Homo sapiens: one gene and its partner. The protein of the gene in region 2 purifies or fractionates together with the protein of the main gene of each other region. This does not show direct contact. Each region holds a gene or a part of one and is shown on either strand. Other genes may lie near its edges.

Region 1 (12,280 bases), on a different chromosome or scaffold from region 2:
GTTGCTGTGAGCTGAGATCATGGCACTGCACTCCAGCCTGGGTGACAGAGCAAGACTCTGTCTCAAAAAAAAAGTGTGTGTGTATATATATCATATATATCATATATATGATATATATATGATATATATGATATATATATAAAATGTATATATGATATATAATATATATTATATATATTATATATATATATATATAAACAGTATACTTTTATAGGGCACTTACCATGAATGGAGCTGCAGGACTGGAAGTTGCTCTGGGTGAATCAAGGCGTGAGTAAATGTGAAGGACTACAGTATTACTGTAGACTCCTATAGACTTTATAAACACTGTTTATTTAAACTACGCTAAATTTTTAAAAATATTTTTCTTTCTTCAATAATAAATTAACTTTAGCTTACTATAACTTTTTTACTTTATAAACTTGACAACTTTTTAAACTTTTGGATTCTTTTGTAATTATACTTAGCTTAAAACACAAACATTGTACAGATGTATAAAAATATTTTTCTTCATATCCTTATCCTGTAAGTTTTATTTTTAAATGTTTACTTTGTAAATTTTGTTAGAAATTAAGATACAAACACACAGATTAGCCAAGGCCTACACATGATCAGGATCATCAATATCACCATCTTCTACTTCCACATCTTGTCCCACTAGAAGGTCTGCAGGGGCAGAAACATGCATGGAGCTGTCATCTATGATAACAATGCCTTCTTCTGGAATTCTTTCTGAAGGAGCTGCCTGAGGCTCTTTTACAGTTAACTTTTTTTTTAAATAAACAGAAGAAATAGACTCTAAAATAAGGATAAAAGTATAGTATAGTAAATACATAAATCAGTAACTTAGTCATTTATTACCATTATCAATTATTATGTACTGTATATAATAGTATATGCTAGACTTAATTGGTCGATTGATTGATTGATTGAGACAGAGTCTCACTCTGTCGCCCAGGCTGGAGTGCAGTAGCTCAATCTCAGCTCACTGCAACCTCTGCCTCCCAGGTTCAAGCAATTCCCTGCCTGAGCCTCCCAAGTAGCTGGGATTACAGGTGCGTGCCACCAGGCCTGGCTAATTTTTGTATTTTTAGTAGAGATGGGATTTCACCATCTTGGCCAGGCTGGTCTTGAACTCTTGACCTCCTGATCTGCCTGCATTGGCCTCCCAAAGTGCTGGACAGGTGTGAACCACCATGCCCGGCCTATGCTAGACTTTTTAGACTTTTATATGATTAGTTATGCAGTAGGTTTGTTTACACCAGCGTCACCACAAACACAAGTAATGCCTTGAGCCACGATGCTATAACGTCACTGGTCAATAGGAATTTTTCAACTCCATTACAATCTTATCAGACCACTGTCATACATATGGTCTGTTATTTGCTAAAATGTCATAGTGTGGCAAATTATTGTATTTGTTTTCTTCTGCTTATTTTGTTTTTCATCTGTTCATTTGTTTATTAAAGTGGAAGTTGAAATCATTGATTTGAGACCTTTTTTTCCTAATATAATATTTCGTGCTATAAAACTCTTCTTAAGTACTATTTCAGTGGCATCCTAAATTTTTTATATATTGTTTTCACTTTCATTGAGTTCAAAATGTTTTCTAATTTCCATTTTGATTTCTTCTGTGACCCATGAGTTTTTCAAAGTATGTTATTTTATTTCCATATTTGGGGATCTTTCGGAGATCTTTCTGTTATTGATTTCTAATGTAATTCCACTGTGGTCAGAGAATACACTTTGTATTACTTCAGTTCTTTTACATTTATTGAGACTTTTTTTTTTTTTTGAGACAGAGTCTCGCTGCACTCCCCAGGCTGGAGTGCAGTGGCACGATCTCGGCTCACTGCAACCTCTGCCTCTCGGATTCAAGCCGATTATCCTGCCTCAGCCTTCTGAGTAGCTGGGATTACAGGTGTGTGCCACCACACCTGGCTGATTTTTGTATTCTTAGTAGAGACGGGGTTTCACCATGTTGGCCAGGCTGGTCTCAAACTCCTGACCTCAGGTGATCCACCCACCTTGGCCTCCCAAAGTGTTGGGATTACGGGCATGAGCCACCGCGCCATGCGGAGACTTCTTTTATGGTTCAGAATATGGCTTATTTTGGTAAATGTTCTGTGTGCCCTTGGGAAGGATGTGTATTCTGTGATGTAGGATGCAGTGGTCTATAAATGTCAATTAGGTCAAATTGTTTAATAGTGTTGTTCAAGTCTTCTATTAATTTTCTGTGTGCTTATTCTATTAATTACTGAGAAGAGCATTAAAATAGCTGACTCTAAATGTGGGTTTGTCTATTTCTCCTTGCAATTCTATAAGTTTTTGCTTCTTATGTATTTTGAAGTTATATTACTAAGTGCAAAAAGCGTATTACTTCTGCTTAAAGAATTAACCCCTTTGTGATTATGAAATGACCTTATTTATCCCACGTAATATTCATTCCTCTGAAATCTACTTTCTCTGTATTACTATAGCCACTTCAGCTTTCTTTTAATTAGTGTTAGCATAGGACAGTTTTCTGTTCTCTTACTTTTAACCTATTTGGGTTACTATGGTTAAAGTATGCTTCTTATTTATAGTTGGGTCTTGCTTATTTTATTGAATCTGGCAGTCTGCCTCTTTGCAGAAGTTGTTAGGCTACTTATATTTAATGTGATTATTGATATAGTTAGGTTTAAATCTCTTATGTTGTTTTCTATTTGTCTCATCTGTTTTTTGTTCCCTGTTTCTTCTTTTTCTTCTTTTGAATTAACTGAGTATATTCCAATTCTATTTTACTTCCTCTGTATGCTTATTAACTATAACTGCTTCATTTTAGCAGTTGCATTAGAGTTTAAAACATACCTTTAACTTCTTACAGTCTATCTTTAAGTGATGTTATACCACTTTATGTATACTTCCCTTTTACCCCCTCAGCTTTATTCTAGTGTTATCATATATTTTACTTCTACATAGGTTATAAATCCCACAATGTATTGTTATTTTTATTTAAACTGTTAATTACCTTTTAAAGAAAATCAATAAGAAATCTTATATAATTGCCCTATGTTGTTACCATTTCCAGTGCTCTGTATTCCTGTGTTGGTCCATGCTTCTGTTTGGTATTATTTTCCTTCTGCCTGAAGAATTTAGCATTTTTTGTAGTGCAGGTTTGCTGGTGGTGAGTTCTTTCAGCTTTTGAATATCTGAAAATGCCTTTACTTTGCTTTCGTTTTTGAAAGATATTTTTGCCAGATATGGAATGGATATAGAATTCTAGGTCGACAGTATTTTCTTTCAGTTCTCTAACAATGCTATTACACTAAATTCTCTTTTGGTAAATTCAGTAACAAGATGTCTGCTGTCATCTTTATTTTTGTTCTGTGGTTGCTTTTGACTATTACTGCTTTTGAGAGATTTGATTATTATATTTTTCAGTGTTGTTTTCTTAACGTTTCTTGTGTTTGGAGTTTGTTCAGATAGTTGGATCTGTGGGTTTTCATCAAATTTGGAGAAATTTCAGTTATTATTTCTTCAAATATTTTTTCTAGTTCTTCCTTTGTTTTCCCCTTCTGGGATTCCAATTCCAAGTATATTAAGCTGCTTCAAGTTTTCCCGTATCTCATTGTTATTCTTTCTTTTTTAAAATTTTTTCTTCCTGTATTTTTAGATAGTTCCTATTATTACATCTTCAAGTTCACTAATCTTTTCTTCTGTAATGTCTAATCTGTTTTTTATTCTTTATAGTGTATTTTTCATCTAACAGGTTGTAGTATTTAATTCTAGATGTTTGACTTGGGTCCTTTTATATTGTCCATATCTCTACTTAACTTGAATATATAGCACATAATTATAATAATTGTTTTCAAGTCTTTGTCTGCTAATTCTAATATCTGCATCAAATCTGGTTTGGTTTCCATTGGTTCATTTTTCTCTTTGTTCTGAGTATGGGTAGAGACTTTAAATCTTTTGTCACAGAACACCAAATTGTCCTCAAAATTTATCCTATTACTACCAGTACAGTCCTACTGGTAGTAATAGGATATCACTTTTACTTTTTCAATAAAAATATGTTTCTAAAATAAAGACATTTCCTTTAAAATGAACTAATACTTGTGCATTATTTCTTTGAAGAAATAATTTCCATGTTACTCAAATACTTTTTGCTATGTTAAAAGTAAATAGGGATGGATTCTGGTATAAAAACAATGTCCTTAAAGGCAAACTTTTTACAAACAATATAGAAACACAAAATACATATATGAATACATAATACATTCATAAATATACAAGTAAATAATTTCATATATACTCGATAGCAACAGATACATTATTTATATTCTTTAGAAACAATCATGCAGATTACAAATGTCACTTTACTCCTTTAATAATGAAATAGAAAGTCAAGCAGGTGAAATATCCTCAGATTATATATTTCCAGCTGATTAAATATTCCTGTCAAAGTCATGCCATCTGTATTGGAAATGCCCTATATACAAGATTATTAATTTGTAATAATCTAAGATCTATTCTTTAAAATGAGAAAATGTCAAAATGCCCATTATCAAGCATTTTCTTACCCTCTGAAGAGTATCAGGAGCTTTCTAAGGCACATGCTACCTATTCATCTGGCTGTGTAGGTAGATGTTGGGAGTACCAGGAAGGATGCCCTGATTGTGGCACAGGTTCTGTAGAGGGCCTGTTGTCGTTCATTGCCAATGTGAGGTGGGCAGGGAGGGGAGACCTTGAGATGTGTTCAGCTCTATGGCAAGGGGTATGACTTGTACATATGTCACAAGACTATAAGCATCAACCCTTTGAATATGATGAAAAAAATATGCCACTAGTTATGCTGTGAATAAATTGAGCTGTTTTAATAATAGTGATGCCAGCAGCCAGAAAAGCCCCATGAAGCCTAACCCACCAGTTCTTCTGTTGGACTCAGGGCCCCCTGACTGACCTGTTTGGTGTAGGTGATCTCTGGCCACCTCAAACATGCGCAGGTGCATGTTGGTGATGGGGTTAAAGGAGCCACAGGCCAGGAGCACCACAGGTATTCGGCTCTTCATCTTGTCAGGCACATCCACACCTGTTGCAGTGGCCACCCTGCTTTTATGGGGACAAAAGCTCATGTCAGGGAGTTAGCACTGAGACAATTATCCAGATCAGTCTCTCTAAACCACACACAGACCATTACTTCTCACTTGTAAGATGACTGAGGAGGCCATTAAAACAACGTTTAAGGAGGGTTGGCCATGGGCCATGAAGTATGCCAAGTGCTATGCCAAGGCGTATCCTTCTCTTGCCAAGTCCTTTTTAACGACCCTGAGTGGTTACTCATACAGCTCAGGGACCTTAGAAGCTACTGGGCCAGGACTGGAACCAAGGCAGCCTGATCCCAGAACCCATGTTCTATTCTGAACCTCTATATCCTCCTTGAGCTCTGACAGATCACCACGGGGTCAGAAGGAGGGCTAGAAGACTCCCGTAGTGCCATCTCTGGTAGTCCTAATAGATCTCACAAGGTCCTAGAGTAGATTAGCACTTTTAAAACACTTTTTATTTTGAAACAATTTCAGACTTATTGGAAAAAAGTTACAAAATTTATACAAAATGTTTTATACTCTTTATCCAGATTCCCCAATGTTAACATTTTACCACACTTGCTTTATCACTCTCTTTCCACACACATACATACCTGTTTATAAATATTTTTTCTGAAATGTTTGAGAGTAAGTCATAGACATAAAATCTCTTTACTTCTAAATACTTCAGTATGTGTTTTCTCAGAATGAATACACTTTGTTACATAACTGCAGAACAATGATTAAAATCAGGAAACCAACATTGTTACTGGACTATTATCTAATGTGCAGACTGTATTCTGATCTCACCTATTGTCCTTTATCTGGGGCCCAAGCATTTTGAGAGGGTGCAGCCCACCCTCTGGTCTCACCCTGTTGAGGTTAAAGGTGAGAAGGAAACAGCCCAGGCTCCAGGGCAGGCTGGCAGACACGGCTCTCTTGCCTCTGAGATGCTGCCTCCTCGAGGTGGGACTTGGTTGACCCCTAGTTCTACCTCTCACTGGCTGTGAGGCCTAGGGCAAATCACAGACCCTCTCTGAGCCTCAGGTTTCTAACCTGCAAGATGGGGATAATGTTACTTACTCTTACAAGGTTATAGTGAGGATAGTTACATATGGAAAGTGCCTGATACGTAAGAAGCATTTAATAAATAATCACTGTGGCTGTGGTGATGATGATGACAATGGTGAGAAAGGTGCTGCTACTGCTGACCCTAATGGAGCAGGAGGAGAAAGGAGATGGTGGTGTGTCTGTGGTAGGCAGTGTTTAAGATGGCTCCCAATGATCCTTTTAGTATTCACTGGTAATCTCATCCCTTAAGTATAGGCTGAAACTTGCTTACAACAAACAGAATACAGCAGTAGTGGTTACCACTTCTGAGATAAGGTTACCAAAGGCCCCTGGCTTCCCTCTTGCTCACCTCTTTTGCTTTCTTACTTGCTCACCCTGATGCAGCCAGCAGGCAGGTTGTGAGCTGCCCCGTGGAGATGCCCATGGGCCCAGGAAGTGAGAGAGACCTCTGGTGGCCAACAGCCAGTGAGGAACTGGATCTGCCAAAAACTATGTGCATGAGTGTGGGTGTGATCTTTCCCCAGTCAAGTTTTCAGATGTGATTGCAGCCCTGCGAACACTGACTGAAGCTTTATAAGATAGGCTTTATAAGTTAAATTATATCTGAATTCACGACCCACAGAAACTGTGAGATAATAAATAAAAATAATAAATAAATGTGTTATCTTAAGCTGCTACATTTTGATGTAATTGGTTATGCAGTAATAGATAATACAGAAACCAATGGGAGGAATGCATTTATTGCCTTTATTATTCATCTTGCTGTGATGGTCTTAGCTGTAATCCTGCAGTTCTGGGGGCAACATGTAGAGTGCTCAGTCACAGGAACCTGGGACCCTGCTTATATCAAAGGAAACTGTTTCAATTTGGCCCATGTTATCTCCTTCTCCAGGCTTTCATCCAGTTTCCTACTTTATATTCTAGCAACAATGAACTACCTATTAGGACTTCTTTGTGAGATCTTCATGGCTTCCTGCTTCAACCTTCTGTACAGGCTATTTTGGTTTCCTCCAACCAGAAAACCCCCCGGCACATCCCAATATGTTAAGATCCAATTCATATGATCACATTATTTATTACTTCATCACTATTTATCAATTACCTGCTAGGTACCTATATCAGTTAGGGATATATTAGCTGCAAATACCAGAAGCCTAACCTCAGTGGTCTAAACAAAGAGAGGTTCATTTGTTTCTAACATGACAAAAAGTCTGGAAGTAGGCACCTAATGACATGAAATCATGGGCTCAACAATGACCTACAATTCTTTCAGTTTCTGTCTCATGGTCACATCATAACCTCAATAAAGGCAAGAAGGAGGAGCAAGAAGCTGTACTAGATTGGCTATTCCTCTTAATCAAGAACACAAGAGCTTTTTTAGAACCTCCTGTAGATTTTGCTTCTGTCTCATTGGCCAGAACTAGGTTACATGGCCACTGTAGCTACAACAGAGGCCAGAAAAGGCATCTATTTAGCTTGACAGCCTCTCCAGTGAGAACAGTAAGGGAAAGGGGATTGGAAACTGGATTAACTAATTCACTGTGGCTGCCACAGAGTTGGGGATACAAGTGTCTGGGACTTGGGAGGGTGGAAGGCTGCTGAGATGGCTTCTTTGACATCTAGCTTAGGTTAACTCATCTCTGACTTACCTTTAATAAACCACAAGCGACATTTTATTGAAAAAGCCTGCTTATGTGTCTTTCCTATCCACTGGACAGTAAACCCTTTAGGAAGGGAAGTGGTGTTTTCTCCTTCTTGGGATTTCAGCTCGAAGCACAGAGCCTGGCCCAGAGTAGGGATCAGTGAAGACTGAAACAGGGCACTGGCAGGCTGGAGGGCATGTACTCTGAGCTACAGTGTGAAGATGAAAAGCTCTCAGCCTAGGCGGGCCGTGGTCTCTCCATACTTCCTTTGAGGCAGCAGGAATACCCCCAACTGTGTGGGAAGAAAGCAGTCAACAAGCTGCTGCTAGCTTTTTCCCAGGGAGGTTGGATGGTTTAATGAGATATTTGCAAAGTGTGCCAAGCTATTCACAAGAGCAGCCTCGTGATGACTGTATCTGAAAAGGTGGCTGTTTTTTTTTTACAACTGTTATGAAGTCTTTCAAAATCCTGTTTCATTTTGACAAAATATACATTGTTAGCACCATTAAAATATGTAACAGCATCTCAGGTAACCTGGGGCTCTCATCCATTTTTCCAAAAGTTCCCAGAAACTATAAATTAGAACAATTTGTTTGAATGGTGGCATCAACAGCAATGAAGTGTGATGCTGAGAAGGAGAATAAATGACCTTTAATAAGTGCCTCTCTTTCTTTTTTTGCTGTGGGCATACTGAGCCACACTGTTCTAGTGGTGACTGTGCTATGTCTGGGCCATATCGCAGGCTGAAGGACACAGGAGTGCACATTCCCAGGATCAGTAACAGGGTCAGTGCACCTGTACCATGTGTACACTCAAATTTGCTTCAACTAAGTACCCTCCCAAGCCAAACCCAGCGAAATACAGTGATAGGGCTAAAATGGAATCACTCCAGGGATCCACCAGGACAATAAACTGGCTCTAATTTGAGTGCAAATCTCATCAGACACAAGGCAAGATGCATGCTATAAAAGTGTCCCATCTGCCCTTATCATCTAATAATATCTAGTGAGACGGAGCAAGTGAGGGAGACTTCTGCTATTGGGGAAGGCTTCTCATCAATAAGCATTTAATGGAGGCCAGAGAGTGATAATTGCAGCTGAAGGATTTAACAAGTTGAGAATGTGGTGTACAGGCTTGTTGGAATTTATCATTAAACTGGAGACAAGGCAAACAGGTTCTACCTTTGGCTCCCGCCCCCTCCCCAGCTTACTGCCTCCCACTCCATAGTCATCTAGACAGCATTTCATCCCACTCCTCAAGCACAACATGCTGCTTCTGCAAAAGCAGTCATGACCACCTGAAACGCCATCCTGATGATCTGCCTTCAAGGTTTTCTCCCTGGAATATTTACCTCCCCCCTACTGCCCTCACCACCATGCTAACTCTGTACTTGTTACATATTTTATCACCTTTTTGTTTCTTCACCAGAGAACTGTCATTTTTTTAATGCATGTTGCTCTTCTCCAAGTGGAAGATAATATCTTAGAGGTTTTTTATTTTTTATTTGTTTTTTTAAGAGACAGGGTCCCACTTTGTTGTCCAGTTTGGAGTGCAGTGGCATAATCATAGCTCACTGCAGCCTCAGACTCCTGGGCTCAAGTGATTAGAGAGTGGTTTTTAAATTCATCTTGGTCCTTTCAACTCCTAGCACTGTGCCTGGCACCAATAGGTACTCAGGAAATGTGTGTGGAAAGAACAACAGAGTCAGTGTCTATCCCTGACCAAGTATTTTTGTCAGATGTCTACCTCCTCTCTTTGGTTCTGTCCCAGTCAATGGAATGAGCCTTCCAGAGATATAAAGTGAACTTTCTGGCTCCCTGAAGGCACACAAGATCCCTCCCCAAAGCCCCACTTCACCCGACTCAATCTGAAACTTAAAAAAGACATCCTTGCCTATTGGGCCCTCTTTACCACCATGATCCTGTCAACAGGGATATGCTGGCCTCCTGCACATTGACACCAAGGTCATCCCTCTGCCCTACAGAACTGGAGGTTGATGGCTGTCCATTTGCCAAGACAGTCCAGACAATTCCTTCCAGATTTTACTGCCTAGACATTGCTCACTGCACTGGTTTTCAGAGTCCGTCCAGTTTCTCTACAACAGCCTGGTCTCTGGCACTGCCCTGACTGCCATCTACTCAGTGGACAACTGCTTATTAAGCATCTACTAGTGGCCAGGCCCTCTACTGGACAGTAGGATGCAATAGGAGGCAATGCAGATGCAGCCCTCACCCTCAAAGAGCTTCCAGTCATCTATGGGAAGGACAATTCAATAGGCAATAACCCCCAGGGTAAGGGATCAGGGCTCAGGGCTTAACACCTCACTGCAAGAGGCTGAATAATTGGCTCCTGAAAATGACCGTGTCCTAATCCTTGGAACCTGTGAATATGTTATATTACATGGCAAAAGGGACTTTACAGATGTGATTACATAAAGAATCTTGAAATGAGGAGGGTAGCCTGGATTACTCAGTTTTATCATGAAGGCCCCCATAAAGAGGGCAGCAACGGGGCTAAACAGAGAAAGAAGATGTGTGAAAGAAGCAGTCGTCAGAGAAGAGAGAGGTGCTAGGAAGGGGCCATGAACCAAGCAATGCAAACGGCCCCTAGCTGCTGGAGAAGGCGAGGAAATGACTGTCCCCAGGACCTCTAGAAGGAACGCGGACCCCTTCATTTTAAACTTCTGACCTACAAAACTTGAAGGGAATACATTTGTGTTTTTGTTTGATTTTTTTTTTTTTTTTGAGATAGCGTTTTGCTCTTGTTGCCCAGGCTGGAGTGCAATGGCACGATCTCAACTCACCGCAGCCTCTGCCTCCCAGGTTCAAGTGATTCTCCTGCCTCTTCCTCCTGAGTAACTGGGATTACAGGCACGTCCCACTGTGCCCTGCTAATTTTGTATTTTTAGTAGAGACGGGGTTTCTCCATGTTGGTCAGGCTGGTCTCAAACTCCCAACCTCAGGTGATCTGCCTGCCTCAGCCTCCCAAAGTGCTGGGATTACAGGCGTGAGCCACTGTGCCCAGCCAAATTTGTGTTGTTTTAAGCCACACATTAGTTTCCTATGGCTGCAGTGATTTGTTACAGCAGCCATAGGAAGTTAAAACACCCATCTTTTTAGCGGCAGGCTGTCAGAAGGGACCTTCCAGCTAAAGCAAGAATGGAGAGGGAATTGAGATGCTGGGGAAGATAGTGAATACTGTGTCAGGCACAAGGCACAGCGCTGCGAAGGCCTAGACACAGCAGCTGAAGGTGGGAGGTGAGCTGAAAGATGTCAGTATGGCTCACGTGTAGGCAGGAGCTGATGTGTGAGTGGCTCAAGATGAAGCTGCAGAGAGTGGAAGGATCACGAGGGACCCTGGGTGCCTATGGAGTTTAGATTTTATCCTATGGGCAAGGAGGAAGCCTCTGAACGATTTTAAACAGGGATGTGACTTGCTCAGTCTGTGTTTCAGAAAGAGCACTCAAGTGCATCCGCAAGTTTCAGGGACAGTGGGTACATCAGAAAGTCTCAGGACGGCCCCAGCTGCCCTCAGGTCTTTCTGGCTGGAGAAGGTCAGACGGCCTCCATCTTCCTGGAATATGGCCTCTTCCGCCTGCTCACATCTCACTTGGCTCACCACGTAATGTGATGCTGGCCAATACTCCATGTGTATTAAGTTCTAACCTAGTGTGCACCCCTCAGCCCATTTGTCACAGGCCGTCGCGGAGGCACAGTAAGGAAGGCGACCCGGGAAGGTTAAGTGCCGTCACTGCAGATGTAACGTGCAAATGCTCATCGCTTGGGAGGCAGTCAATTTACCTTTCCCTGCGGTGAGCATTTGTAACGGGCCCAGGCCCGGGAAAGTGGCTGAAAACATCCCTGTTTATTATAGACATAAAGCAGATGGCTTCAGGCAGAATGGAAATGGATTCTACAAACATCTTTTATTACACAGACCTCTTGACCAGACTCCTCATCTTAAAGAAAACACAAGTCGTGGTTTGTATGTGGGGCTGACGACCACATTTTTCAGGACTCGGTGAAATCATTTCCATCTGTGTGAGCGTGTCGACTTCTCTAGGGCAATCAACCTTCATGCGATCTCCAGTACTTTTTCTTTTTAACCCGCTGTTGCTACGGGCACACAATGCTGCTAAAAACAAAAGCAAAGCATACCTTCCTTGTCGGTGTAAGGATCCTCTGCCAGCCACCCCTTGGAGGAAACAAACATGTCAATTAAGCATTCATCCTAATTATGAGACTCCCAGGAAAGCAGGCAGCCCACTCTTTAGTTTCGAGAAATTTCAAAAGATTTGAAGGAGCACAAGGCGTGGAATGAGATCTCTTGCAATGCCATACTCATAATTTGGGACTAGTTTCAATTGCCACAATAAAGTACGTCTGAGTAACTACTACTGGGTTTATTGAGTAATAGGCTAGGCACTGTGCTAAAAACTTCACACACATCAATGCTAATTCTTTCAACACACCTGGAAGGGAAGGGTTTGTGCTTGCT
Region 2 (12,280 bases):
TGTGCAGTGTAAGATGTTCAGCAGCATCCCTGGCCTATACCAACTAGATGTCAGCAGCACCCTTTCCCTAGTTGTGACAACCAAAAATATATCTACCAAGTGTCCCCTGGACAGCAAATTGTCCTGGTCGATGACAACTGGGCTAATGATGAAGACCTGCTGTGGCTCCCTACACCCAAGTTGTTTTTTATCTCATGAGCTAACATCACAAGACCTGAAGAGGGTAGAATATGTGGTATCGATTATAAAAGTATTCTAAATCTAGGAAAAATTGATAGACTGGAATTCTAGAAGCTCCTTTTTCTGTTCCTTTTTCAAAATAAGAAACTTTGGTGGTTTGGGGGAGAATCTGTGACCCACTGGATTGAAGGTCCCAACTGTTTAGAATGCATCTTTGATTCTGGAAGGTTAGGAGGGCCAAGGTAGAACTCAGATTAAAAAGAACAAGAAAATAGCTTCTTAGGATTTGTTCTAGCTTTAAGAAAAGTTAATAAAGAAACCTTCATGTTTCCTTCTATATTGTTTAGGAAAGAACTCTGGGGGACAAATATCTACATAGAAAAAAAAGATTGTGAATTTCTTTGTTTGGAGCATGCCTTGGGGTACATATTTTAGAAACATGAGTTTGGTGGTTGGGGGACAGAACATCAAGAAACCTCAACACCCAGCAATTCTATTACTAGATATATATTCAAGAGAAATGAAAATATATGTCTATACCTAAATCATGCCCAAATGTTTATAATAGCATTATTAATAGGCAAAAGATGGAGCAACCCAAATGTTCATCAACAAATGAATGGATAAACAAAATGTAGTATATCCATACAATGGAGTACTATTCAGCCATAAAAAAGAACAAAGTACAGATAGATACATGACAGAACATAGATGACCCTTGAAAATATTATGCTAAGTGAAAGAAGCTAGTCACTTAGCATATATACATGAATCATAAAATATGATTCATTTATACAAAATGTTCAGAAAAGGCAAATCTATAGAACTATGAAGTAGATTAGTGGTTGCTTAGGGCTGTGGGGGATAGAGGGTAGGAGAGGTAATAAAAATATTCTAAAATTGACTTTGGTGATGGTCACACATATCTGTGAGCATATTAAAATCATTGAACTGTACACTTTGAATAAGCAAAATATGTGATATGTGAATTATATCTCAAGATGTTACAAAAGAAAATAACCCCAACAATTTTGGACATCTCCTTACTCCCCTCCCCCAATCCTGTTTAGCATCACCAGAAGTGTATAGGATATTTGACAGGGAAGTTCAGATAGGTCTGGGTGGGAACTCTAGGAGTCTAGAACATGGCAGGGCACTGTCAAGGAACAATAGCCCATTTTAGCTTCTCCTATCAAGACCTCTTTTTTCCCTACAAAATAAGACTAAGCCAGCCTTACTGATACAGCCTTAGAGTATTGTAGAGTACTTGTATTGTAGAGTATTGTAGAGTAGAGTACTGTTCCACAACATCTGCATAGGAGAAGCTCCTGTGTTACATTAGTTCACACCCACAGTTCTTAGAAATTCTAAAAACCTTCAGAGGACTCGGCTATATGAACCACTGTTCATATTTAATTTAAATTAAGAAAACTGTCTTATCTTTTCTTTTCAACAAATAGTGCTAGAAAAATCAGATATCTATGTGCCCCTCCCCCAAAAGAACCTTGACTCTTATCCTGTACACAAAAATTAACACAAAATGGATCAGAGATTTAAATCTAAGAGCTAAAAATATAAAACTTCTAAAAGAACACATGGGAGAAAATTTTTGAGATGTTGGGTTAGGTAAAGATTTCTTAGATATGACCCCAAGGTATAATGCATAGAAGAAAAATTAATAAATCAGACTTCATCAAAATAAAAGCTTTTTTTCTCTTGAAAAATTAAGAAAACCATTAAGAAAATGAAGACATGCTACAGACTAGCAGAAAATTCTTGCAAATCACATATGTGACAAAGGACTTGTATCTAGAATATATAGAGAACTCTTACAACTCATTAATAAGAAGCCCAATAACTCAATTAAAGAATGGGAAAATGATCTGAACAGACATTTTTCCAAAGAAGATATACAATTGTCCAATAAGCATGTGAAAATATGTGTGATATCATTAATCATTAATCACTAGGGAAATGCAAACAAATCAAGAAAAACCACAATCAGATACCACTTCACACCCACTAGGATGGAGCTAATAAAAAAAAAAAGATAACAAGTGTTGGTGAGGATGTGAAGAAACTGGAACTCTCATACAATACGAATAAGGATGGAAAATGGTGCAGCCACTTTGGAAAACCATTTGACAGTTTCATAAAATTTTAAACACACTATACAGCCCAGCAATGCCATTTTGAGATATTTACCCGAGATAAATGAAGACATGTATCTACATAAAAATCTGTACATGAAGGTTCATAGTAGCATTATCACAATAGCCAAAAGATAGAAACAACCCAAATGTCCATTAATAGATAAATGACTAAATACAGTGTGGTAAATCCATACAATAGAATGTTATTCACACATAAAAGAAATGAAGTACCAATATATGCTACAACATGGATGAACCTTGAAAACATTATGCTAGGTCAGGCAGGCCAGGTGCAAAAAGCCACATGATTCCATTATTATTAAATGTCATGAATAAGACAATCCATAGAGCAAAAAGCAGATAAGTGATTGTTTAGGGATGGGGAAGTGGAATCGGAGAACTAGAGGGCAATGTCTAAAGGGTACAGCGTTTCTTTTTGGGATAATCAAAGTATTTTAAAATTGATTGTGGTGATGGATGCAGACCTCTGTGAATATACTAAAAGCTGTTGAATTTTATACATAAGATGAGTGAAATATATAATGTGGGGATTATATTTCAATAAAGCTGTTTTTAAAAACTGTTTTTGGAGACAATGCTTTTTCTCCCACTTTGAGGGAATGACAATAATGAAACAGATGAAAATAAAGAACTAAGAACAAAAAGACCATTGCTTCAACAGTTTTAAATGGAACAGCCTGCATCCCTGGATAGATCAATCCCCACTTGATGAATCTCTTCAGTCTACTCAAGAAATAGCAAGGCATTTAGCACCAGTGCTAACCACCCCCATTAGTAATAATCCTTCCCTAGCACTGAAAATAGCACCACTGTGATATAAATAGCTTAATAATGGCACTGTCAAACACTTGCCACAATTTTAGCAGGCTGGCTTTTGCCTTGCTTTGTTTTGTGAGTCCTCTGCCTTCTGCTCCTTATACCATCCACAGTGTAAAGAAAAGGGGGTCAAACGAAAATTACAAGTTTGAAAATATTCTTTGGTGATGTCATTGCAGGCAGCAAGAAAGATCTGAATATAAGAATTATGCAAATACCTTTTAGAGGCCATCCTGGAAAGCAATGTATCCACCAAAGTAAGTACGACATCACATTGGCAATCCTTAGGAGCATAGAGAGGTAGAGTACATTCAGAAGAGTGAAAACATGTCTCGACAGAACCAACACTATGAGGTGGATACTCTGTTATTGTGGAACTAGAAGGACTCTTACAGGTCATATACTAAGGCTCCTTAAAAAATTAAGGCCCAAAAAGAGACGTGATTGGCTCCACGTTACATAGCTAGGGAAGAACAGAGTGAAGACTAAAACTCAGGCCTCTGAATCCCAGCCTAGGGCTCTTTCCACTTGCTGAATGCTAGACAGTGACAGACTAGTCAGCACAAGAGACTGGAATTCTATGCCAAAGCTTTTGATTGAATTGGCCAAGTCACACCTCTGTCACTGCTCAGAGCCAGGAGCATCTCAACAACAATAAAACTCTAAGAGGATAAATTACTGAAGAAATAACTGATCACCAGGCTACACTTAGTCTTTTCTTTCCAGAAGGGCAGTATATTTGATGTTTGGCCACTCTTTTAAAGTGTGAAATCTACCACCACATATGACATGGTAGTTTGCAAACTGTCTCCTTTCACAGAGCCCAGCCTGGCTTTTCACCTTTGTTCTATTTCACTTCATGCTCAAGCCAATCCTCCCAAAGCCTTTCTCTAGGAACCTCTGAAAGGTTGGAGAAGGAGAATTTTGGTAATAAAAACATGAACTTTCCAGCCTTGATCTTCTCAAGTGAAGGCCAATGATAAATGACCTCCCTCTTGAGGCATAATTTATGCCCATGTGGCCTTTTCTAATGAGCCCAATGTTGACTGACAGGGTCATAACACTAGGAGAAGAGAGAGGTTGGCTCTGAGAGAGCCGGAGGCCAGGGAGTATAAATAAGATCAGATATTACTTGGGAAAGCAGAGATAACAGGGGAGAGAAAAACTGGCTATGTAGGCAAAGGAAAAACACACCTACCTTGGTAAGTGCATTCAACATTTCCAAGGTTAAATCCAATCTGTCTTGCTGTGTTTCCTGCAATTGCCTTTGTGCTTACAGCACCCAGTTCTTTTGTATGGCAACGTGGAAAGGGCAAGTCTTTCCTAGAATACTAAGCAGCAATTGAAACATCCCTCATGCTCTCATCTGTGTATTATGCATCAACCATTTCCTTAAAACCCCTGTACTAGTTTCCAAGGCTATGGATAATCTTGGAATCGGCTTAAACCTCTCCTCTGTTATTCTGAGACCTGTAATCCCAGATCCAAGTAGTCGGTGCTATAAAGGTACAGACAAAAACATAAAATAAATCCTTCCAATTGAAAATTGGCCTAACAAAGCTAGAACAAGCACTAAAGGCCATACTTATGTCTTAGGCATGTATATTGAGGCAATAATGAATCTTCACTTGCACAGATTCTGGGTGTGGACAAAACTGAATCTAGAGATGTCAATCAGTGTAGCATGAAAATGGATGTTGTGAAGACCAGCTGCACCACTGTGTATGATGCCAAAAAGCTGGAAGTCTATTATTAAAGCTCTGCAATTAATTTTAAGGCCAGAACATGTATCTATTAAACTACTACTATCATGTGAACCAGAAATTTGGGTCCCAGTTTTTATGTATCCATCACTTTTATGCATGAAAGTCAATGTGTACTTTAGTTATGGAAATTAATAATTGGATAATTTTGTCAACACTCCACAACCACTCCAGCTGCCAAGGAATCAAAAGAACAATTTTCACCTGCAAGTGAACTAATATGCATCACCATCCAATCCTCTATCATGTCCTCTTTGACCTCCTAGAAGTCCATTTTAATCCCTGGGAGTAGCCAGAGCCCTACCAACTACTTCTTATATCATTAATAACTTCTTATTGAGGTGAGGAATCAATTGGGGTGTCTTCCTACTAGTGGTGGTTGGCTTTCCTGTCTACACAGACCCCAAATATCTCAGAGGCAAGAGGTCAGGAAACCAAACTTCTATAACATCAAACATAAGCCCTAGAAAGATCAAGGGCTCTAAAAGACACATTCAAACAAAATAAAAACAGAGAGAAAGAAATGAGCCATGTCTGCAGATTGCTTGTCAATCAGTGTGAGCCAATCAGTCAAATGATACACACAATTACAGAAGCAACAATAAATTTGCAATAACCAACTGGGCTCTTTTAGCTGATCATTATTTATATGAAGAGGGAAAACCACCTGGTTTGGTCGATTTGGAATCCAGTTATAGTGAACACTGAAATCAAGCGATGGCCTTGATTTCATGAATAAATCATTCCATAACAAATAGTCTTGACCATACTTTGTTCTTTACAAATAAGTGCCTTGTGTCACGTATAGCCAAAAACATGCATTGGAATCTCATCCAAGCAAGTCAAGCTATTGCCATACATGTGACTTCAGCCTCCACAAAAAAGATTATATTCGCAAGCAGTACGAATACCCACTAATAATCAAAGTGATTGACAGGTGTTAACTTTAGTGCTGTCATCACCAGACCTGGGAAATGAGCTGAGCTCCAAAATTTTGAATTTGGCACCAACTTTCACTATACCCAGCATCTATTTTGTAATTAGTAGGTTTGTCCATGTACCCCCAAATTTTATTTAATGTCTTTGCTGTAACAAAACAACGTTTAATTTGTGGTCACCCTGTGCATACCAATATTACCATTAAAGTTACGGTAGTTAGTTCTTAATTATCAGTGTTTTATGTAAACAACATTTTCTAGTGCACTCTGTGCATGTGTGTGTGTGTATATCTACATATATGTGTGTGTGTATATCTACATATATGTGTGTGTGTATATATACATACATATACATATATGTATGTGTGAGTATGTGTGTGTGTATATTTCATTAAAAATGTTTGTGGTTAAGTAGGATTGGGATGGATTTCCTTGCTGTAGAACTTCTCAGAGCATTCAATGTGCCAGTGAGCACTGGAATCTCTAAGAATGGCACACAATTTGCAGCATTTTACTGCAAATAAGGCAAACCTTATTTGCCCACAGAATTCTCTTTGGAGAGCTTTTTGGGGTGGGGACATGGAGACATTTCTCCTTAGAATGTATTTAGGGAAATGTTGCTTTAAATGTCTGCCCTCAGTGACTTCCAAGTAAACCACCAGATAGAAGCCACCTGGTGGAATATGCACTCCTTTGGAGGCCCCCTATCTCTTCTGAAAGACCTAAGGATAATGTCTGGGGAATTGAAAGATGGGTCCTCAAAACATCTACCTGGGCCATCTGAGAATCTGTTTATGTCAGTTCATTCAATCAAAAAACATTTATAGAGCATCCATAATATACCAGGAGCTTAGCATTAATTAAAAAAAAAAAAAGGTTTGGATTGCTTTTACCCTCCTTAGCAGAGACAGAAATTTTCAAAGATAAAGTGATATTTGAACCAGGTCTTATAAGATGACCTCCAGGGGTCAGGGTGGGCAGAGGAAGACATTTTAAAGAAAGGGAATGTATATACAGAGGTACAGATGCCTGAAAGGGCATGGTTCAGATCCACTGGGCACCACTCTATTTCTCTATATGAATGTCATATCATATGCTGGTATTTTGTAATATGTCCCCCAAAGAAAGGGAACTGATGTTTAAAGGAGTTTGAGAGAGCTTGCCACTCTGCATGGCCTGCTGTAGGACAAAACCCTATGCATCACTGGACTGGAGCTTGCTTCCCTAGGAGATGGAGGTGTCCCTTTATATATTATTTGGAACAAAAGCAGAATGCCAAGGCATGGTATATATTCACAAATGTTGGAAATTTATAATAAGAATGATAGAGATAAAGTAGGGGGAAGAGGCTAGGCATGGTGGCTCATGCCTATAATCCTAGCACTTTGGAAGGCCAAGGTGGGCGGATTGCCCTAGCTCAGGAGTTCAAGACCATCCCGGGCAACACAGTGAAAACCCGTTTCTACTAAAATACAAAAAAATTAGCCGGGTATTGCAGCGTGCGTCTGTAGTCCCAGCTACTTGGGAGGCTGAGGCAGGAGAATTGCTTGAACTCAGGAGGCAGAGGTTGCAGTGAGCCAAATTCACACCACTGCACTCCAGCCTGGGTGACAGAGTGAGACTCTGACTCCAAAAGTAAATAAATAAATAAATAAAGTAGGAGAAAGAGAGCTAACATTTATTAATATATGAAAATTGCCATAAATCTCATTTAATGATGAATTATATGCATATATATATATATACATCCATGTGTCAATTTACAGAGTGCTTTCATATCCATTATTTGATTTAATCCTCATAAGAGTCCTGTGAGCATGCTCAGGGCAGGTGTGATCAGTCCTTTTGTACAGAGAAGGAGTGTGAGGTTCAGGACAGTTAAGTGGTTAAGTGACAATATCAAGACTAAAGTCCAAATCTTCTTAATCCCAGTCTTATGTTTTTGATTTGCATATTCCTATATTACTTCAGAAGGCTGAAGGCACAGGGAATCAGATTTATGCCTAATATAAAGAAACTCTAAAAATCACAGCTGTTGAACAGTGAAATAGGCTGTCTTATAGTCTTATAGAGTGATTGTAGAGGATATCCATGCCTTAGGTGGAAGATTAAATGTCATGGCTTCTAAAGTCATTCTCAACTCTGTGATCCAATGATTCTAAACTTTCTATGTCCTATTTCTCTGAGATGAGGCTTTGGCAATCAGGCCTATACTTAGACAGCTCCTGTTTATTACATACATGGTGCTTAGAAGATAGACACTCTTAGAGAAATGCTTGGGAATTGGAGATTTTCCCAACATCACAGACAAACCCATTGCTTCAGTACAACAAACAGAAGTCAGGTATAACCAATGTGTCCAGGTAGCTCTCAGATCGCAAAATGATGGGAAACAAAGCCAAATATTTCTCAAAATTGCAAAGTACACAGTACCTGGGTGAGTTTTCCCTGAAACTTAAAATCTTGGAGCACACATTACTATCAGAAATTATAGGAGGAGGCACAGGTCTGCATTTGAACACTCATCAGTAACTTTGATATATAGTGAATCCGCCTTTTAGGAATACCTTTTCTATATAGTTGTTTAAACACCAAAGGCATTTTAAGAGGTAGAATATATGGACTGATACTAATCCACACTTGTCTTTTCTGATGGGAGACCAGAATTCTCTTTAGAGCCAACAGAACCAGCCACTGTTCCAATTCCCTTGGAACATTTTTGTTGTATATTTACAGCTCCCTATGCTTAAGAGAATGGTGCATCTGTCTGATGGAGACGCCTGGCTGCATTCTTTCCCAGATATTAATATAGGTGGCACTTTAGTAGTATAACCAATGACATGAAGAACCTGATTTGGAGGGGGAACAGATGGCAGCATCTTTCTTGGGCTAATTTTAGGATCCTGAAATAGTCCCTTTCTCACACAAACCATCAGTGGAACCAAATTAAGACAGCTATGTCATATGGAAAAGAGAAAGAGAATAAATATGGTTTAGTGTGAGGCAAAGACAACGAGCCAGAGGCTTCAGTGCTTTCCCCGTATCTGACTTCTTTCAGAGCATATGAAGGTCACTTCAACTTCCTTTTATCAAAATAGATGCTGAGCATCAATGTGAGGGTATCTAAAAAGTAATGAATGGGCAAATATCATTTTCAGTCACATGTATTGAACAATGAAGGTTGCATCATATAATAGCTAAATTCATATTCATAAGAATTCATAGAACCTAGGTTCTAACACATCTTTCATAGCAGATAAGGAAGCTGAGGCTAAGTGACCTTTCTGCATGGTAAATCAGAAGCAGATTGAATTTCAAAGCCTCAGATTCCTGATTCATTGCTTTGCCTGCTAAAAATACCTTTTCTCCAAATGAAACCTATAATATCAGGTTGTGATGATGAGATGTGGAGGAAGAGTCCGTCAACAAGAAATGATATTTTAGGTATAACATGATCATCTAAGAATTTAGAAAAAACGGGAAAAGTACTTTGAAAAAGTACCTACCTGTTTTCCATCCAGAGTGTAGAGTTTTTTGACAACCCCGGTCTCCAGTTTGATGGCTTCTGTGATATCAGTGAGGACTTGCTCAAAAGAGTGGGCTGTCTTCTTGTTCAGAAGCACACGCACAGCCTTCCGAGGCTTCACCCCACTGCGGATGATGGTAACCAGCTTGGGGCGCACAAAGTCCTTGTTCTCCCTGGCCTGTGCACTGTTGCTGCTAGCCAAGGACTGGGGGGCTTTCATATTGGCAGATGTTTTTACGTTGACAGACCAGTTGGGATTGACATTCTTGGTGTACTCCACCTTTTTAAAGAAGTTGTCTGAGGAACAGACATAGCTTTCCCCTAAGGCAAGAAATAAGTGATTAGGTGATTAGTTTAATAGCAGATATATGGATTATTCTAACCAAACTAATACACACTGACACTGGAGTAGAACTTTTCAATAAATGGTGATACTAACCAACCTTAGGTGCAATTCCTAATTGGGCTAAAAACTTGGCTCATCCAAATTCAAGAGTAATTCTCAAAACATCCTTCAATATAATGACACACCTAGTTGAAGAACTCTGTAAAGCTAAGGGTTCTAAGGACAAAGAGCATATCTAAATTTAATATAACAAGTGGAGTTCCAAGCTTGATATGGTTTTTTCTGGAATTTAAACATTTATGTTAGTTTCTAGGATGTTTAGCTTTCAGGGGCATTACTGGAGAATTTTTAACATTTCTATTTCTTAAAATCCCTGTCCTATTTTTGGACTCAAAGTCCCATCCCTTTGTGATATTATGAACCAAGGAAAACTTTCAAAGTTAAAACATTTTTATGCCAAGTTAAAATGAACCAAGTAACCTTGTATATCAGGCATACATACATACTTGATAAGAAACCAGGTCATCCTTTGCACAGAGTATATGGCCAAGTATGGAATATTGAAATGTGAAATGTGTGTGCATATGTTGAATGTTTATATGTGTGTATAAGTGTGTCCTCTACTCCTTATGCTACACTAGGTAGAGAAACTGTCTAAATAACAACCAGTACATATAAACACCTTAGCTTTTGCTTGAAAAATACTCTCATGTTTCTACCACTCACCCTTCATCTTTCCATCCTCTCAAAGGATGCACATAAGATCTGTGTATTCAGGGTCATCTTCACCAGTGCTCACCCTTGGCTGCCACAAGTAATGAGGTAAAGAAGTGAGAATACATTATACAGCCTGATTTATGGATTGGAAGGATCTAGTGTAATTTTCACATTTACCTTGGGCTAGAGGAAATGACTAATATCGCAAAAGAAATGCAGGGATCAGAGGCAAGAGGAGGGGACTGGACACCTGGGACTATGAGCTGAAGAAAATAGGAAGAGAGATAGGCTCAGCCTGGGGAAGAGAATACTGGAAAAGGTTGAATTCGTTGAGTAAAACACATTAGCCTCAAGGTATCTAGAAGTTCATTGAGAGGTTGAGCTGCAGAAACAGTGTGATTTAATCAGGCTTAAGTCATCGGTAATAACCCTAAATAAATAAATAAACCCTAGCCAGTGCACAGAAAGCATTAAACACAATTATAGTCTGATGGCTCTCCTTTGGTCTCAGCAGGAGAACTGCATTCAGAAACACCAGGTTGATAATTCACTCCCTTTGCAAATATTTATTGCTTTGCCATAGCACCAAATCCTTTAAGACATGTTAATGAATAAATTTCTCAGTAATGCTAAGAGAAGTTTCAGTCAAAATCTCTAGTGTACCTTTGAGGACATTTATGTGTGTGTGTATGTGTGTGTGTGTGTGCGTGGTGTGTGTGTGTGTGTGTGTGTGTGTGTGTGTGTGTGTGCGGAGGGGGAGGGTAAGTGGCATCCAACATAAGCAAAGTGACTTCCAAAGCTGCCCTCAGTCCCAGAGTTCTATCTTGACAGGGGGACAAAGGGATGGTTTTAAGTGAGGATAGGCACCCTTACCCACTTGGTGCATACATGGACACCCAGGATGAGATGGTCAATACCTCAGCCAAGAGAAGCTCTGATTTCTTTGACTCCCTTGCTGGTTAATTCAACCCAACCCAAGTAATTATAGGCTGGGGTCTTTAATTTTTGACTTAAAAGGATGAAGGAAGGGGCCCTTTTAGTGTCTCCATATATTCACAGCCAATAACCCCCATAACCCTAGAAATGGTCTCTTGACTTAGCAGTTCACCAGATTCACTGGCACCTTGCAGGAGGTCACTGCCTTTGAGTCAGATGTTTTCCATAACTTGTCATGTACTTTAAAACTGTCAGACAAATGGTGGTGTGGAAATGTGTGAAGCTATATATTTATGATTTCACTCATCCAGTCTCCTCTGGAGAGTCAGCTGTGTAGCCCTATTAGGACTTTGGACTTTTTTGCTCCCATCTCTTAAACCTCTTAAGCCTCTGGAGTATGAGTATGATTAACCGTCTCCAGATGAAAATGAACATGATGACTGACAGCTATAGTATCATATAGCACCCAAGAACTTTCCAGAGGGCCCAGCCTCAGCCAAATCTATGTTGAGCACCTTCCAGTGGTACATTTTAGTCACTCCACTCTCTCGTTGGGCTGAATATGGAGTAATGGAAAAAGCGCAGCTGATGTGATGTCAGTCAGGATGGGGTCCCCAACACTTCCTAGTTGTGCACTCTAACCTCCCTTGGCTTCAGTTTCTTCTTTGCAAAGCAAGGGTGATAATAAGAATACCTATCTTGTGGGGTTGTTGTGGGGCACAAATCAGATGATGGATAAAAAGTGTTCAACCCATGGCCAGGTGCGACGGCTCATGCCTGTCATCCTGACACTTTGGGAGGCTGAGGCAGGTGGATCGCTTGAGATCAGAAGTTCAAGAGCAGCCTGGACAACATGGTGAAACCCCATCTCTACTAAAAATACA

What was found.
Region 1: the proteins of DCX (region 2) and NMNAT3 purify together in Homo sapiens (affinity purification with mass spectrometry; 3 studies listed by BioGRID and IntAct, with this or other methods). This does not show direct contact.

What each region holds. Positions count from the first base shown.
Region 1 is NC_000003.12:139,622,671-139,634,950, forward strand, and holds part of NMNAT3 (nicotinamide/nicotinic acid mononucleotide adenylyltransferase 3), read right to left. Parts: intron 11,978-12,280; 5' UTR 11,941-11,977; intron 5,095-11,940; 5' UTR 5,055-5,094; coding exon 4,946-5,054; intron 1-4,945. UniProt on the Homo sapiens protein: Catalyzes the formation of NAD(+) from nicotinamide mononucleotide (NMN) and ATP. Can also use the deamidated form; nicotinic acid mononucleotide (NaMN) as substrate with the same efficiency. Can use triazofurin monophosphate (TrMP) as substrate.
Region 2 is NC_000023.11:111,391,613-111,403,892, forward strand, and holds part of DCX (neuronal migration protein doublecortin), read right to left. Parts: intron 9,719-12,280; coding exon 9,378-9,718; intron 1-9,377. UniProt on the Homo sapiens protein: Microtubule-associated protein required for initial steps of neuronal dispersion and cortex lamination during cerebral cortex development. May act by competing with the putative neuronal protein kinase DCLK1 in binding to a target protein.